5 linked regions of the Homo sapiens genome follow. The protein of the gene in region 1 purifies or fractionates together with the protein of each later gene. This does not show direct contact. Each region holds a gene or a part of one and is shown in the gene's direction. Other genes may lie near its edges. The genes, in order: DUS3L, EIF2A, BCAT1, SERPINE2 and CALU.

The links.
Region 2: the proteins of DUS3L (region 1) and EIF2A fractionate together in Homo sapiens (co-fractionation; one large-scale study listed by BioGRID). This does not show direct contact.
Region 3: the proteins of DUS3L (region 1) and BCAT1 fractionate together in Homo sapiens (co-fractionation; one large-scale study listed by BioGRID). This does not show direct contact.
Region 4: the proteins of DUS3L (region 1) and SERPINE2 fractionate together in Homo sapiens (co-fractionation; one large-scale study listed by BioGRID). This does not show direct contact.
Region 5: the proteins of DUS3L (region 1) and CALU fractionate together in Homo sapiens (co-fractionation; one large-scale study listed by BioGRID). This does not show direct contact.

What each region holds. Positions count from the first base shown.
Region 1 is NC_000019.10:5,784,640-5,788,217, reverse strand, and holds the end of DUS3L (tRNA-dihydrouridine(47) synthase [NAD(P)(+)]-like), read left to right. Parts: intron 1-41; coding exon 42-194; intron 195-512; coding exon 513-629; intron 630-856; coding exon 857-922; intron 923-1,046; coding exon 1,047-1,157; intron 1,158-1,298; exon of another isoform or gene 1,299-1,372; coding exon 1,373-1,469; intron 1,470-1,675; coding exon 1,676-1,751; intron 1,752-2,426; coding exon 2,427-2,615; intron 2,616-2,706; coding exon 2,707-2,835; intron 2,836-2,942; coding exon 2,943-3,015; 3' UTR 3,016-3,078; downstream 3,079-3,578. Other genes in the region: PRR22 (proline-rich protein 22), read left to right, coding at 3,558-3,578. UniProt on the Homo sapiens protein: Catalyzes the synthesis of dihydrouridine, a modified base, in various RNAs, such as tRNAs, mRNAs and some long non-coding RNAs (lncRNAs). Mainly modifies the uridine in position 47 (U47) in the D-loop of most cytoplasmic tRNAs.
Region 2 is NC_000003.12:150,574,236-150,577,789, forward strand, and holds part of EIF2A (eukaryotic translation initiation factor 2A), read left to right. Parts: intron 1-1,413; coding exon 1,414-1,527; intron 1,528-3,554. UniProt on the Homo sapiens protein: Functions in the early steps of protein synthesis of a small number of specific mRNAs. Acts by directing the binding of methionyl-tRNAi to 40S ribosomal subunits.
Region 3 is NC_000012.12:24,942,583-24,946,136, reverse strand, and holds part of BCAT1 (branched-chain-amino-acid aminotransferase, cytosolic), read left to right. Parts: intron 1-3,554.
Region 4 is NC_000002.12:223,980,271-223,983,824, reverse strand, and holds part of SERPINE2 (glia-derived nexin isoform b precursor), read left to right. Parts: intron 1-1,043; coding exon 1,044-1,144; intron 1,145-3,424; coding exon of another isoform or gene 3,425-3,427; coding exon 3,428-3,514; intron 3,515-3,554. UniProt on the Homo sapiens protein: Serine protease inhibitor with activity toward thrombin, trypsin, and urokinase. Promotes neurite extension by inhibiting thrombin. Binds heparin.
Region 5 is NC_000007.14:128,759,850-128,763,403, forward strand, and holds part of CALU (calumenin isoform a precursor), read left to right. Parts: coding exon 1-3; intron 4-3,554. UniProt on the Homo sapiens protein: Involved in regulation of vitamin K-dependent carboxylation of multiple N-terminal glutamate residues. Seems to inhibit gamma-carboxylase GGCX. Binds 7 calcium ions with a low affinity.

The sequences.
Region 1 (3,578 bases):
CGCGTGCAAGAGCATGTGTGTCTGTCCTGCTCCCCCCGCAGTGTGGGAACCTGCCCTTCCGACGGATCTGCAAGCGCTTCGGGGCGGATGTGACATGTGGAGAGATGGCCGTCTGCACCAACCTGCTGCAGGGCCAGATGTCCGAGTGGGCCCTACTCAAACGCCACCAGTGTGAGGACATCTTTGGCGTCCAGGTCAGTGCCCACCCCGAGGGAGGGAGAGTGGAGGGGCCCTCGGCCGTCCTGTCTCAGAGCCAGGTTCCAGGTCTGCCCTGGTTGCCTCCCTGACCCCCTGGCCTCAGCTGTGGAGTGGGGGTGATGCCCTGATCCACCTCTGGGGGCTGATGGCCGTGGCCGGGGACCGGTGCCTCGCAGACAGACCTTGGCTCCTTCCGGGGAGGCCCCGAGAGAGGAGGCCACTGGCTCAGGGCCCCCCAGTGGGGAGGGAACGGCCAAGTGGGGACAGTTCGGACTCTCCCCTCACCCTCCTGTTCTGCCACTACCCACCTACAGCTGGAGGGCGCCTTCCCCGACACCATGACCAAGTGTGCCGAGCTGCTGAGCCGCACCGTGGAGGTGGACTTTGTGGACATCAACGTCGGCTGCCCCATCGACCTCGTGTACAAGAAGGTAGCGGCCCTGGACGTGTGCCTCGGTTTCCCCATCTGGGCAGGGAGGCACTGACCCAGCCGGCGATGTCTCGGTGGAGGGTCAGGGGTTTGGGCTCAAGTGTGGCCCTGGAGTCCCTGCCTTTCCTGCAGGTCGGCGTCTCCTGGTGGGGGCCTCCGGGCAGCAGGGGTGAGGGGTCTTGGGTCAGCCCACGTCCTGCCCTCCCTCCACCCGCCTGTCTCTTCCAGGGTGGGGGCTGTGCCCTCATGAATCGCTCCACCAAGTTCCAGCAGATCGTCCGTGGCATGAACCAGGTACGGCCAGCCACATCCTCGCACTGGCTCCCAAACAACTCCCCCGGGCCCTGTCTCCCACCACCTCCCACCGTCTCCCACCACCTCCCACCATCTCCCACCACCTCCCACCACCGTCCTGTAGGTGCTGGATGTGCCGCTGACTGTGAAGATCCGCACAGGCGTCCAGGAGCGTGTGAACCTGGCGCACCGCCTGCTGCCCGAGCTGCGGGACTGGGGCGTGGCACTCGTCACGGTGGGTCTTGGGACGCCTCGGGCATTGGGGCCTCGCGGTCGACCCCGCGTCCCTTCCTAATGGCTCCTCTCCTCCCATCCCTCCCTCTTCACCTCCACACCTCCCTCTGTCTCCGCCTGTGTCTCTCTCTGTCTCTCTCAGCCTGGCTCTCTTGGTCTCTTCCTCTCTGCGTCTCACTCTCTGCCTCCTACCCTGCGTGGCGGCTTCTCCCCCAGCTCCACGGCCGCTCTCGGGAGCAGCGCTACACCAAGCTAGCCGACTGGCAGTACATCGAGGAGTGCGTGCAGGCCGCCAGCCCCATGCCCCTGTTCGGTGGGTGTTCCGGGAAGCCACCTCCCTCTCCCCTACCACCCTTGGTCACTCACACCTCTGGGCTGTTCGCCTTCCCACTTGGGACCCCCTCGTACCACCCTGATGGGAGCCACTGGGTCAGCCAAAACTCCTGAAGGGCTGGTGAGCAGAACTCCAGGGTCCCACCTGCCCATGTCTCCCTGAGACCCCAGCCTCTGTCTCCTCAGGAAATGGGGACATCTTGTCATTTGAGGATGCCAACCGCGCCATGCAGACTGGTGTCACCGGGATCATGATTGCCCGGTAAGTGCCCAGGGATGTTAGAGATCCAGCTTCATGCACAGCAGCAGTGCCCTGAACCCAACACGCCGTCACCCACCCCTGTTCTGTGGTGGGCTGTTGGTCCCAAGATGGGAGGAGCAGAGAGCGATGTCAGGAGTTGCAGCTGCGTTGCGGCAGAGGGGACTGGAAATTGCTGCTGCTGTGGGATCTGATGATTGTGGGTTGAAAGTCCTGGGCTTTGGCCAGGTGTGTGGCTCACGCCTGTAATCCCAGCACTTTGGGAGGCCAAGGCACGCCGATCATTTGAGGTCGGAGGTTCAAGACTAGCCTGACCAACATGGTGAAACATCTCTATTAAAAATACAAAAATTAGCCAGGTGTAGTGGTACACGCCTGTAATCCCAACTACTAGGGAGGCTGAGGCAGGACAATTGCCTGAACCTGGGAGACGGAGGTTGAACAGTGAGCCGAGATCTTACCACTGCACCCCAGCCTGGGCGACAGAGCCAGACTCCGTCTCAGAAAAAACAAAAGAAAGTCCTGTGCTTTGAAGGTTGTGTGCATGCAGCTGGGAGGCTTACTAGGCTTGTAGGTTTTGTGGTCTGGGCTCCGGCTCAGGCCAGGCCATGGAAGCAGAGGCCACACGATCCCAGGCAGGCTGGTGGCTGGGCCCACTGATCGTCACCCGTCCCACAGTGGCGCCCTGCTCAAGCCGTGGCTCTTCACGGAGATCAAGGAGCAGCGGCACTGGGACATCTCGTCGTCCGAGCGCCTGGACATCCTGCGGGACTTCACCAACTACGGCCTGGAGCACTGGGGCTCGGACACGCAGGGCGTGGAGAAGACCCGGCGCTTTCTGCTCGAGTGGCTGTCCTTCCTGTGCCGGTGGGCACCGGGGCTGGCTGGGGTGGGCGGCGCGTGGGCCGCGGCTGGTTAGAGCTGACTCAAGCCTGTCCTGCCCGCCCACCCGCCGCAGGTACGTGCCCGTGGGGCTGCTGGAGCGGCTCCCACAGAGGATCAACGAGCGGCCGCCCTACTACCTGGGCCGCGACTACCTGGAGACGCTGATGGCCAGCCAGAAGGCAGCCGACTGGATCCGCATCAGGTGCCTGGGTGGGCTGGAGTTGGGGAGCTGCAGTCGGGGGCCCGGGGTCACGGAGGGTACTTTGCAGGTCCTGGGCCTGACCTCGCTTTCCACCTGCTCTCCCACAGCGAGATGCTCCTTGGGCCAGTGCCCCCCAGCTTCGCCTTCTTGCCGAAGCACAAGGCCAACGCGTACAAGTAGCCTCAGGCTTTCCCAGGGGCACCCTGGGGCGAGGAGAGTACAATAAATTTTATTCTTTTAAAATCCAGGCCTTTCTGTGACCCTGAAGCAGCCCCTCCTCGGCCCCCACCTTCCCCAAACCTCTTAGCTGCCTCCATGGGCCCTGCCCCAAGCTGGGTGCTGCTGGTGCCCAGAGAGGCCTTGACCCCCAAGAAGGTAGCGGGTTGAGGACCCGGGGGGCCTCAGCCTGTGTGGGTGTGGATCAGGGCAGCCTGCCTGGAGGAGGCGGCCTCAAAGCTGTTAGGGGGGTGTTGCTGGAAGAGGCAAAGGCCTGGCCCAGAATCCTCCCTCCCATGGTGATGACCATGTCTGCCAACGTCTGCCCCTGCTTGCCCCCAACACCCAGAACCCCAACCAGTGGGCGCGCTGCAGGCTGGAACCCGCTGCCCCGAGTAACCAGGCAAACAGAACCCCACCAGGTTCTCAGCCTGTTCTCCGGTTGGGCCACTTGCACTCCCACTGCCGCCCTCCTGGCCTGTCTGGACCGGGCCCCCCGCTGCCCCATGCAGCACCCCAAACCGTTC
Region 2 (3,554 bases), on another chromosome or scaffold:
AGAATGAAATTATGCGTAATGAGCACATAGTACCAAAACCAGAAAAAACTCATGATTTATAGTAGTTGTGTGGATTTTTTTCGTCTCAAGTGAAAGGCTCTCAGTGGCTACATGATGCTCATAAGCGTGGAAGAGACTTGTAACTTATCTTTTCTTCTTGTATCATTTTTCATCAAAGTTCTGAGCAGAAACTTTTCGGCCAAAGTAAACTACTACAGAAGAGCCCACTATTGAAAGAATTTTCATATTATGTATAAAACAAATGTTCAGCAAATATTGTATAACTTAAGTAGCATTTTATGCAACATGGATAAAAATGAAATGAAAGAGCCTTGCACTCCAAATTTGTCTGCTGTTCTACAAATGTGGGTTCTCATAATATTCAGTTTGTTTCAAGTAGAATATGAACATACCCAGAACTTTGATGACCTGAAATAGTTAATGCATTTGCTAAGATAAGGTCACTTTATGGTTTCTTATTTATTACTCTGCATCTTAAGTGTTTGAGCTCTGCTCATTTCCATATAGAACTTATAAGTAAAATGCGGATCTGAGACCTAGTACTCAAGAAACTTCATGGAGAGCTGGTACTTTTGATGTGCTGAGTTATGGTACAGTCTAAGAGACAGTTAACATTAAAATAATAGCAATATAGATAGAAATCAGTAAGTACCTGAATCTGATAGAGAGTTGTAGTGCCATCACTTATACTGTATGTTGTCTAAAACTGTTCTGGAGATACATTGAATCTATAATTCACCATCTTTTCTATTGTGGAATATAGTTGTTACATGGTTACATGAATATCTGATGTTGGAAATGATTGTCTTCATTGTGTAATCTGACAAGCCATGTAATTTTTTTTTGGTCTCTTCATATGTCAATCCCAGATTTGTAATTATCTAGTTAATTACTCCTTTCTATTTCATTTATTTTCTTATAATCTATTCTTGTTTTTTCATTTGCTTTTATTTTTAATCTTCTAATTTCTGATTTTACAAGTAAAGATCTAGCAAGTAATTCTTTGTGTGAAGAAAACAAGCGAGGCAACTGGGTTTCTGTTGACAATAGTTAGAACCAAAAAGGCCTCAGAAGAAGCTGTTGTTGGTATCTAGTTTTCATAAGAATCATGTGTCTGTAGTAGTGCTAAGAAAAATTCTGTTTGAACAAAACTAAAGTGAATTTTGCCAGCTCTGATATGATTGAAAGATATAGGAACTAATAGGAAGACCCTAATTAAATCCATCCTGACAGTTGGAGTGTGCCACTACCAATGAGTTTCAAAATAATCTTTGCTAATGATCTTAAATTTGATAAAATAAGTTTATCCTATATTAGCAGAAGTGTATAATTTGTTGTTGTAGGTGTTTACAACATGGACTCCATTTCAAAATTATTTTACATTTTCCATAGCATGAAGAGGAACCACCTCAGAATATGAAACCACAATCAGGAAACGATAAGCCATTATCAAAAACAGCTCTTAAAAATCAAAGGAAGCATGAAGCTAAGAAAGCTGCAAAGCAGGTATTTGGGGCACTAATCTCATAACAAAACAAATAGTCAGTTATGGCCGGGCGCAGTGGCTCACGCCCGTAATCCCAGCACTTTGGGAGGCTGAGGCGAGTGGATCACTTGAGGTTAGAAGTTCAAGACCAGACTGGCCAACGTGGTGAAACCCTGTCTCTACTAAAAATTCAAAAATTAGTTGGCCATGGCTTATAATCTCAGCTACTCAGGAGGCTGAGGCAGGAGAATTACTTGAACCTGGGAGGTGGAGGTTGCAGTGAGCCATGATCGCATCACTGCACTCTAGCCTTCCAGCCTGTGCGACAGAGAGAGACTCCATCTCCAAAAAAAAAGGCAGTTAAGTTAGCTTTAAGCCTTAAAGTTTAAAGAATTGTGGTCCTAAATACTTGACTGTGACCAGGTGTGGTGGCTCATGCCTGTAACCCAGCACTTTGGGAGGCCAACGTGGGAGAATTGCTTGAGCCCAGTTCGAGACCAGCCTGGGCAACATAGTGAGACCCCCATCTCTATGAAAAATTTTTTGCTGGGCACAATGGCGTGTACCCCGTAGTCCCAGCTGCTTGGGAAGCTGAGATGGTAGGATCACTTGAGCTTGGGAGGTTGAGGCTGCAGTGAGCTGTGATTGTACCACTTCAGCCTGAGTAACAGAGCAAGACCATGACTCGAAAAAAAAAGAAAAAAAGCACAAAAAACCTTGGCTCTTACGTTATAAAATGTAGTTGGAGTTAGACTTAAATAGGCAGAATATCTTTCTTTTGTCTTTGCCTATGAATTTCTAAGTAATCCTGTCTATATGATGGGTGACAAAAGAAACTGGACTTGACATCATAACCTGAGACACTAATGGTATTATGTAAGCATGTTACTTGCTGTAGACCCTTTTGGTGGCACTTGTGTGAAGTGGTGTAGTTTGCTTTCCTTGAAGCATGTATTTACTAAGAGAAGCTGGAAATTACATGACTAGAAAGCCATTTGGGCACTCAGTATTATAGTACTATATGAAATTATTTAACTGGGAATCGAAATACCAGAAGTACCCAAATAATGGGATATTTCCAAAATAGTTTCTTACTTGATTACGTAGTTGAAAAGCCACACCAGTGTAAATAATTGACAAATTGTGATATTGTATAGCTCATGGTGATAATGTGATTGGCTGGGCTGGGGATGTCTGGTTAGTGAAGTTATGGTGATCACATTTTTGCAATTCAGGTAGAGTACATGTCTCAATCCATTCAGGCTGCTACCTTATACTAGGTAATTCATAAACAAATTTATTGCTCACAGTTCTAGAAGCTGGGGCGCTGGCAGATTTGGTATCTGGTGAGAACCCGTTCATCATAGATGGCACCTTCTTTCTGTGTGTCCTCCCATGGTGGAAGGGGCAGTGGAGCTCTCTTTGGTCTCTTTTATAAAGCTACTAATCTCATTCTTGAGTGTGGAATCCTCATGACTTAATCATTTTCCAAATGCCCCACCTTTTAATACTATTACATTGGGTATTAGGTCCCAAACTATGAATTTGAGGGAAACACCAATATGTCAGACTGTAGCAGTGGGGTAGGGTTTTTGGATGTTTTGTTTTTGTTTCTTTTGAGACACTCTGTCTCACTCTGTTATCTAGGCTGGAGTGCAGAGGCATGATCACGGCTCACTGCAACCCCAGACCCTGAGCTCAACTAATCCTGCCTCAGCTTCCCAAGTAACTAGGACTGTACATGTACACCACCATTCCCAACTAATTTTTTTATTTTTGTAAAGATAGGTTATCGCTATGTTTTTCAAGCAGGAAATGGGAGTAGGTTTTTTTGGTTTGGTTTTGGCTTGGTTTTTTTTTTTGAGACCGAGTTTTGCCATGTTGCCCAGGCTAGTCGCAAACTCCTGAGCTCAAGCAGTCTTTCCACCTCAGCCTCCCAAAGTGCTTGGATTACAGGCGTGAGCCACTGTGCCCATCCTAGAAAGGGCAGATTTTTAACAGCTGGTTGCTATATCAGTATAGTCTTGCTGATAATTCTTGAATTTTG
Region 3 (3,554 bases), on another chromosome or scaffold:
TGAGCCTTTGTATTAGTTACATCTTTTGGGGTTTCAGGTTGCCAGCTTCTTTAAATGGCCTCTTCTCAACTGGTATAGGAAGTTGGAAAATAAAGAACTTTCTTTATTTCCCTTTAGTGTTGGTAACCACAGTTTCTTTAAATAACAGATGCCCACCCCAGGGAAACCCAGTGGCATGATCAGCCTTATGCTCAGGAAGGTTTGGTTGCTATACTGGAGAGTGAGAATCTGGGACCTTCCATGATAGACATAATTGTGCCAGCTATCCTCTACTTTCTATATGATGCTATCATTCTTTTTTCTTTTCTTTTTTTTGACAGAATCTCACTGTGTTGTTCAGGCTGGAGTGCCGCAGAGTGATCTCTACTCACTGCAACCTCTGCCTCCTAGGTTCAAGCAATTCTTGTGCCTCAGCCTCCTGAGAAGCTGGGATTACCACCATGCCCAGCTAATTTTCGTATTTTTTTGTAAAGACGGAGTTTTGCCATGTTGGCCAGGCTGGTCTGGAACTCCTGGCCTCAAGCGATCTGCCCATCTCGGCCTCCCAAAGTGCTGGGATTACAGGCATGTGCTATCATTCTTTTTGAGCACAGGAGGAAACTATGGCTGATCTGCTCATTTTACTGTCAAAAATATAGGCAGCTTTTGTATTGTAACATTATCCCCTTAACAGCTGTCCAACTGGTCTATACATTTCACCTAACATATGGTAAATGTTCCTACTGTTGGCCTTTCCTGAGCCTCTGTCCATTCAACTAAGGCCACTGCAATGGGATTGTATGCAGTTCAGCCAAGAAATAAATGTGAGGTGCAACTCACATTTTTTAAATGTTTCAAAATTAAGCATTTAGGTGCTTTTATTCATAAACATGACTTTGCAAATATTGGTAAACAGTTTCATCATAAGACCTTGTCAGTGACTCACAATGTCAATGGTGAACGCAAAGGAGAATCTGTCTTTTCTGGAACACCAGGTTCAGGTATCAGTTTCAACTATGCTTATAATTTGTGCTCTAAAGTCCACAAAGCTAAATTATCTTTCCCCTAAAAATTGAGTACTCATATCCTTAAAATAGCTTGGAAATTAGATTACCTTATGAATACAGCATAGCATGTCACATAAACGTTTTTCTACTGTTATACCTTTTTGGTGGGAAAGACTATTTTGCAAAACATTTTTCTTGTGTTCAGTAATTAATGGGAAAAACAAACTCTAAAAGAAAGAGACAGTTATGTCCCAAAAATACAGGAAAATGGAAGAATGGAAACAGGGAAGACCAATAAAGAAAAAAATAGAGGAAATTACAAGTAATAAACTGAAGTCATACTGAAAAACATATGGCTCTTTCTTATTGAAAGTTGTGAAATACTTGCAAAACTCAGCTAGTTCCATTAAGAATAGTCTTTAATCTAAAAAGAACAAATTCATTTGTCAGTTCTTTATTTCGGTGTGTAGATTTGAATGTTTCATCAATTGCATTTACGGTTTATCCCTCAGTGTGAGAACTGTTTTTGCTGTTTTGACTATAAATGGATATCTGCTTTAGGAAGACTTAGGAAGCCTGGGACATAGGATTACAGATCAAATTCTATTTGACTCCATAGAAGTTGAGACGGAAGGAGCACCTGTTGGGATATTCTAGACCAAACATTCCACAGCTGTCTCTTAACGTGACTGACAAAGAGACACAGTTGAGACGAAGTTTGGGTATATCCTGGGATGAGGCCAAGGGTGGATTTGCACAGGATGGTCACAGGGCAGTTGTTAGCATTCCACCACTACATAAAAGGGTGATTTTGCCAAGTGCATTTCATTTCATTTCAGTTGATTTAGATACCAAGTTATATTGTTTTGACTTTAGGACTAGATGTGAGTTCAGGAATTTGAAATCATAATAAATGTTTCCTTGAACTTTGAAGATAAAAGGTAGAGTTAAAAGACAGCTGCGAAGTCTACATGGGGAAGCATAATACATGACTCAGGGTTCCATGGTTTTCAGTGTCGGTGAGTGCTCTGTACACTTATAAGAATAGTGCTGGTGTTTATAGAAGAAACACATGCAGGTTTGAGGCAAGACTTCCTTGCTTAATTGGTGCTTTTGCTTTCCATTTTCTAAATGCCATGCAAACTACTTTTTTTTTTTTCTTTTGTTGAGACGGAGTCTTGCTCTGTCACCCAGGCTGGAGTACAGTGGTGCGATCTCGGCTCACTGCAAGCTCCGCCTCCTGGGTTCACGCCATTCTCCTGCCTCAGCTTCCTGAGTAGCTGGGACTACAGGCGCCCGCCACCACGCCCGGCTAATTTTTTGTATTTTTTGTAGAGACGGGGTTTCACCATGTTAGCCAGGAAGGTCTTGATCTCCTGACCTCGTGATCTGCCCGCCTCGGCCACCCAAGGTGCTGGGATTACAGGCGTGAGCCACCGCTCCCGGCCTCAAACTACTTTAACTGAAAACATTCTTCTAAGGAAAGCATCAGAAAACTTACTAGAATTGCTTAAGAATAAATAAATAATACAAATAAAAGAGCAAAATGAGAAAGTAGACAGACTCCTAGTCTATTGTGCTATTGATCTCTCCAGGTTCTAGGCTTTCTTGGGTCTGACACCACTTTGTAAATTTTTTTTTTTTTTTTTTTTTTTTTCCAGATAGGGTCTCATTCTGTCACCTAGGCTGGAGTGCAGTGGTACAATCATGGCTCACTTCAGCTTCAACCTCCTGGGCTCAAGTGATCTTCCTGCCTCAGCTCCCTGAGTAGCTGGGACCACAGGCATGTGCCACCACGCCCGGTGAATTTTTGTATTTTTTGTAGAGATGGGGTTTCTCCATGTTGCACTGGCTGGTCTTGAACTCCTGGGCTCCAGTGATCCACCCACCTTGGCCTCCAAAGTGCTGGGATTACAGGCATCCGTCACTGCACTGGGCCAGTTTGTAAATCTTATGAAAAGTATGGCCAATCTTTTGCAAAATGTGCAAACACATATAGACACAAAGTTTTATATCTAAATTATTGGTTATTAAAGCCAGGACAATAGAGTGCATATAGCATGGAAGACAGGTAGAAAAGACTGAAATGGTTTAGTTATTCAGAGCAGTGGAGGGCTATTGGCTCTTGCCTTTGCAGTCAGCTGAGATATGAAACTATATAAGCAGAAGCTTCACGCTGCCATTTGAATATTGAAAATCTCCACTTTTAGTTCAAGAGATAAACAACCAATGGTTTGTTTGTTCACAGCACATAAGTTATCACTTTCTTCTCTGTTTCATCCCATCAAGATCTAAGGTGTATAGTTACAGAATAGAACTCGGTTCATACCATATGCACCCTAATTTCTTCGATCTTCAACTAGTTTGGAAGTGTGTGTGGGTGTTTTCTTAGCCAAGGTTAATATGCAATTTCTTAGTGGAGTGTAGGAGTTTGGGGTGCCTAGCCTTCCTACTTCCCACTTAGATAACTTCCCCTACCTGTTGTACCTGTCAAAGGAGAAGGCCAGTATGGCCATGTTCTTTGCAGGTGACTCCACCTTAGCCACAGCTGATTGTAACAAGGGTGTA
Region 4 (3,554 bases), on another chromosome or scaffold:
CTTCCACAGGATGAGATCAAATCTGATAAAGCATCCTCTGATGACAGTAACTGACATTTACACACACACACACACACACACACACACATATACACACATATATATACGTGTGTGTGTGTGTGTGTGTGTGCATATATCTCCATATATCCCCAAGGCCAAGTAGGTCACAAATATTCAAGAAACCTATATTATACCCAAATATAATACCGTGTCACCTATGCCTAATCTTTGCTCCTGTTTTAATAGTAAAATACTTTCAGAATCTCAAAAGGGGCTGGGCGTGGTGGCTCACACCTGTAATCCCAACACTTTGGGAGGCCGAGGTGGGCGGATCACGAGGTCAGGAGTTCCAGACTAGCCTGGCCAACATGGAAAAACCCCGTCTCTACTAAAAATATAAAAAATTAGCCAGGCATGGTCGTGGGTGCTTGTAATCCCAACTACTTGGGAGGCTGAGGCGGGAGAATTGCTTGAACCCAGGAGGCAGAGGTTGCAGTGAGCCAAGATTGCACCATTGTCCTCTGGCCTGGGCCACAGAGCAAGACTCTGTCTCAAAAAAAAGAATCCCAAAATGAACTATCAGGAATGTTTCTCCTCTCTTTTGACCATCTCCAATCCCAATAAGGATGGCAGGTCTTAGAGCAGCCAAGATGGATATGGAGAACTTTAGTTGGATATGGGGAAGAATAATAGATATTCCAGAGTACTAGGAACTTGTTAACACTCAACCTCCACGTCAGTATAAAAGAAAGTATGTTTGTAGATCTTCCTAAGTATTGGAACAGGGGGCCCATTACACCTGAGGGTGGGAGCGCCTATTCTTGCCGTTAGTACATATGACTCATTTTGCCAGCTAAGTGTTTGAGAGAGGAGTTGTCCTTTACTTATCTGGTATTTAAATTTGGAATTCAAATTTAAGATGCAATTCAGATCGGTATTCAGATATTAACTTTAAAAGAATCAGTTTGTAAACATGCACCGACTCTATCATGTAGCATTTATAGCCTCGTGATTTTTTTTCTCCATTTCTGCTTTCATGCTAGGTTCACAGCTGTAGCACAAACAGATTTGAAGGAGCCGCTGAAAGTTCTTGGCATTACTGACATGTTTGATTCATCAAAGGCAAATTTTGCAAAAATAACAAGTATGTTCAATTTAAAATGTATTTGTATACTTGAAGAAAGTGTTACAAACTGAGACTGATTTGTGCAGAGAAAAAGGATCAGAATTAGGAATGTGTTGCCCTGAAACTGTACAAGGTTTCATTTGATACATTGCCAAATTATGCTATTGGCCTTCGTTTATTTATTGACCTTCATTTATTTATTTTTTCCTTTTATCTTTTTATTTCAATAGTTTTTGGGATACAAGTGGTTTTTGGTTACATGGATCAGTTTATATAGCGATGAAGTCTGAGATTTTAGTACACCCCTCCCCCGAGTAGTATACGTTGTACTCAATATGTATTAATAGATTTTTAGCTCCTCACCAACCCACCCTCCTCCTTCTGAGTCTCCATAATCCATTATACCACTCCGTATGCCTTTGCATACCCGTAGCTTATCTCCCACTTACAAGCGAGAACATACAGTATTTGGTTTTCCATTCTTGAGTTACTTCATTTAGAATAATGGCCTCCAGCTCCATTCAAGTTGCTGCAAAAGATATTATTTCATTCTTTTTATGACTGAGTAGTATTCCATGATGTGTACATACCTCATTTTCTTTATCTAGTCATTGCTCTTGACCTTCATTTAAATCAGCGTCCCCACATTTTGCACGTACATTTCATGGGAAGCCCCAGTGACTACCTAAAGGAGTATTTCATGTATTGCTTTTATGAATATTGGCTCTGACTTAGGTGTTGTCGCTCTGTTTTCAAATGCCAACTTTTTCCTTTTGCTTGAAAAAAAGTCAAGACTGCAGTCATTCACTGTACCCAGATATGTATTTTGGCATTTCATGCTCATTAATATGAAACGATATAAATTCAAATGAATCTGATTAAAACTTTCCTTTGCCAAAGCAATTAAGGCATGCTTTTCATTTGCCAGCAGTATATGTACCTTTTTCTAGAGTTATGTTTGAATGGTCAGTCCTTTGTTCTTTAAATTTAGAACATAGCAATCTTTCCAAGGAAAAGCCATGGCTTGAACATTATTTGCACTCCAGTTTGCAAATAACTTTGAGTGGTAAGAAATTAGCTCATTACCAGCTTCAGTTGCATGCTAGTAAACACCTAGTACCTGTTCTGGGGACAAACATGACTCCCCTGGTGAACCTGCAGCTCCATGGATATTCTGATAGCCGTTCATCCCTCATGACTCAAACTCAGGCCTCCAGCCCAGCAGCATTAGCATCACCCAGGAGCTTGTTTGAAATGCACAATCTTGGGTGTAACCCAGACCCACTGAACCAGAATCCATTTTAACACAGTCCCTCAGCCCAGCAAAGACTGAGAAGCACCATTTTCATCTGCACTTTTCCCTTCAAGGTTGTTCATGGTAGCTGAAATACTAAATGGGGGGTGTTCACAGGAAGAACCAGGTGCCCCAGATTCTCCTGGAAAGTCCTCTTTAACACTGCATGTGACTTGGGCCCTATAAATGTGCATCTCAGTCACAATTTGGTCATATTAGAGCTGGGCATTGGTGCAGATAGTTCACAAGCAGATGACACAAAAAGCACATTTTCCCTTTGCATCCAGACCTATGTCCCATCCAGACTAATATCAACTTAAGTTTTTCATTCTCTGTGAAAGCTACACCCAGTGGGTGTTGCTGGAATGGTCAGAATTTGCTGAGAAGTAAAGTGAGTTCACCAGAATGTCCCTGAGGCACAACTGCATTTACACATCGGCCCTTCCAGGAAAATCTAAACTCTTCTCTTGTTCGACACTCTTCTCTTACTAGCATGCCCATGAGATGAGTGGCTGTTGTGAAGAGCCAGGACTTACTCTGCCACTAACTAGCCGTATGATTGCAGGGAACATTACTTAACGTTCTAGGCCTCAGTTTCCCCATCTGTAAATGCTGTCTGAAATCCCTTCTGCATCTGCATTCTGTAACTGAAAAATAATCTTGTTGCCTTGCTGCTTCCAGAAAACCGGGCTTCCTTTTTAAAGCTCTGCTCTTTTCATTTTTAAAAAACAATTCTAGTGATCAGAATTGAATTGATAGAGGCACTAAATCATTTGAGGGCCTGGGCCCTTCTCCAGAAGTGAGTATCACAGTTCACTTAGCAGGGACTGAAATTCACAAGTAACAGCTGTCTGCAGCCTTCAACACCAGGACTGTCAGAGGTCATGTCTTCTGACACTTTAAAAATTGGAATTTGCCATGGCTTTGAGCTTTGAGGTTACTTCCCCAACCAACCAATGGCCTGCCTATCAAACAAATGCTGATACTGTTTTATTTTCTGGAAGCAGGGTCAGAAAACCTCCATGTTTCTCATATCTTGCAAAAAGCAAAAATTGAAGTCAGTGAAGATGGAACCAAAGCTTCAGCAGCAACAAGTAAGCACTGGGTCACGTGGCAGGGCTTCCTCTAGCAGGG
Region 5 (3,554 bases), on another chromosome or scaffold:
TTGGTAAGTCTCTGCTTTTAGTGTTTTTCTTAGAAAAGCTGAGAAGCTTTGAAAGGTGTATTTGCTGGCTGGGCACAGTGGCTCATGCCTGTAATCCCAACACTGGGAGGCCGAGGCGGGCAGATCACCTGAGGTCAGGAGTCCAAGTCCAGCCTGGCCAACATGGGGAAACCCCGTCTCTACTAAAAATACAAAAAAATTAGTTGGGTGTGGTGGCGGGCGCCTGTAATCCCAGCTACTCAGGAGGCTGAGGCAGAAGAATCGCTTGAACCCAGGAGGCGGAGGTTGCAGTGAGCCGAGAACACGCCATTGCACTCCAGCCTGGGCAACAAGAGTGAAACTGTCTCAAAAAAAGAAAGAAAGAAAGATGTATTTGCCCATAGAAACAATTTACTCCAAGGGTCAATTCTCACTAGCTCATTAGCTGTCACCAGATCATTAACCAGACCAGTGTGATAGTGGGTTGTGATAAAGTATCCGTAGCCACATTGCCCAATCAAAATATAAATGTGAGCCCCATATGTAATTTTAACTTTTCTAATAGCCACATTAAAAAGTAAAAAGAAACAGATGAAATTTCAGTAGTTATTTAACCTAATATTCTAAAACTCTATAATTTCCACTTAATGTAAATTATTGAGGGTTTTTTTTTAATACTTAAAGCACATCCCAGCCACATTTCAAGTGCTTAATAAGCACCTGTGGCTACCATCCTCAACAGCACAGATATAGTGTATCCTGCATGCTCTATGGAACTGATGGTAAAGAGTTGCAGGGGGCTGGGCACGGTGGCTCACGCCTGTAATCCCAGCACTTTGGGAGGCCGAGGCGGGCGGATCACAAGGTCAGGAGATCGAGACCATCCTGGCTAACACAGTGAAACCCTGTCTCTACTAAAAATACAAAAAATTAGCCGGGTGTAGTGGCAGGCGCCTGTAGTCCCAGCTACTGGGGACGCTGAGGCAGGAGAATGGCATGAACCCAGGAGGCAGAGCTTGCAGTAAGCTGAGATCATGCCACTGCACTCCAGCCGGGGCTACAGAGCGAGACTCCGTCTCAAACAAACAAACAAAAAAAAGAGTTGCAGGGAGCCCAGACTGACATAGGGAAACCCAGGGAAAGGAGATAGGGAATAGATTAAAAGATGGATAAATAAATGACGGGGAGTTGCTGATCCCTCTTGTAGCCATTCCTTTTTACTGTGTTCTGTTCATATTTTCTCTCTGATTCTCTGACTACTTTCCTTTTGTTTTTTAAGTTTCTCCCTTTTGACATTTCCCTTTTTAGTTGTCTAAATTTTTTTAAAAAAATTGTTTTGGATGTCACACCTTCAAGGCTAATTTCTCCCAAGTAAAGCTCTGTTTTATTATCATCAGACTAATTTTAAGATATTCTCATTGCTTTAAAAAAAAAAAGCTGTCTTTCTTACCAAGTAGTTGAGCAAATTGTTTCCCAATTACTGTGACAGAAATTAAAATGAGTAAAGGAGCTGGGTGTGGTGGCATACCCGGTTACTTGGGAGGCTGAGGCAGGAGGATCACTTGAGTCCAAGAGTCTGGACTATAGTCACAAGTTCATCATCAATATGGTGACCTCCTGGGAGCAGAGGATCACCAGGTTGCCTAAGGAGGAGTGAACCGGCCCGGGACAGAATCAGAGCAGGTCAAAACTGTGCTGATTAGTAGTGAGGTTGTGCCTGTGGATAGCAATTGTACTCCAACCTGAGCAACATAGCGAGACTCCATCTCTTTAGAAAAGTGAGTAAAGATGGAAAGTATAAGACTGTTACTACAAATGTCATTGTTACAAATACTTTGTTTAGAAAGATATTAGATATTTTAATATTTCACATACTTATTGTCATTTGTAATAACTTATTCTAGCACACCATTGGTTTTGTGTTTCAGATAAGCCCGTTTGTTTTTAGACCTCTGATAGTTACCTGAAATGTTTATTTGAAGCCTGAAAGGAAGACTTAATCCTTACCTCTATCACCTGTCATTAAACTGTATGGAGCAAGTCACTGCTTTACTTAGATGTTGTCTTATCATACCTGTTGTTTACATGCTAGAGTTATTCCAATTGAATTACTCCTTGACTGTTTACCTCCCTTTTCTTAGGTTCAGTGGCATACTTTGAACTTTTTAAAGAAGGATGAGCAATGGAAGATAGGATGGATGTTTTCCTAAACTGATTTTTTTTTTTTTTGGAGAAGTTTATCAGGACAGTGGATAAGTGCCTAGGTGCATTTACTGAGCCCACGTTGATGTTACTAGGGTTTTCTACTTTTAAATGATTTATCTTTTTATTCTTGGCTTTTGCCATTTTATTGCCATTGCTAAAACTGAGGAACTCATTTGAACCTCCCAAGGAGAGGAATTTTTATAACTGTTAACTACATCACTTATCAAGCATTGAGGCCAAATAAGGAGATATTTCTGTCTCCCTGTGTATCATATAGATTCAAGGGCAGAGGAGTTATATTTTGAAGCTACCAAAACTATCTTGTGCATGTGTGCTTTTTTTTTTTTTTTTTACAAGTCAGTAACTAATGCAAACACTTTTACATCTGGGATGCTGGGCTTTGTAAATCTAAAATTCTCCCAAACAGTATCTTTCAGCTTCTAGTGCCCTGTTGAAGGAGATCATGAAGAAACAAAGTTCTTCGCCTCATAAATTTAGCATTAAAAAGAAGCCCCATCAGTGCCTGTGGAAACATAGGGAAAGAAAAAAAAAAACACCCAAAGTTGTGCTGATAATTATTTTTATTTTTAAAATTTATTATAGAGCATTGCAGACGTACACAACTTATTTGTTTATTTATTTATGTTTTTTTTGAGACAGTCTTGCTCTGTCACCCAGGCTGGAGTGCAGTGGCGTGATCTCCACTCACTACAATCTCTGCCTCCCAGGTTCAGGCGATTCTTGTGCCTCAGCCTCCTGAGTAGTTGGGATTACAGGCATGCACCACCACACCTGGCTAATTTTTGTATTTTTAATAGAGGCGGGGTTTCACCATGTTGGCCAGGGTGATCTTGAACTCCTGGCCTCAAGTGATCTGACCACCTTAGCCTCCCAAAGTGCTGGGATTACAAGTGTGAGCCACTGCACCTGCCCCCAAATTAGAATAGTATAATGAATCCCCATGTACCTATGCCTAACCTCAACAACAATCAACTTACAGCCAGTTTTTTCTCAGCCACATCCACTTCCTTGCTTCCTTCTTACTTTGAAGTAAATCCCAATCATTATGTCATTTCATCTGTAAACATTGAGGTATATATGTCTAAAATATATATGTGTTTCTAAAAACATTTTTTTAAAGATAATGTCAACCCAAGAAAATTAATAATACCTTCAAATCATCAAATAGACTGAGTCTTTTAAAAATAGAAATTCGGCCGAGCATGGTGGCTCATGCCTGTAATCCCAACACTTTGGGAGGCTGAGGTGGGCGGATCACAAGGTCAGGAGTTAGACACCAGCCTGACCAACCTGGTGAAACCCCGTCTCTACTAAAAATATAAAAATTAGCCAGGTGTGGTGGCATGTGC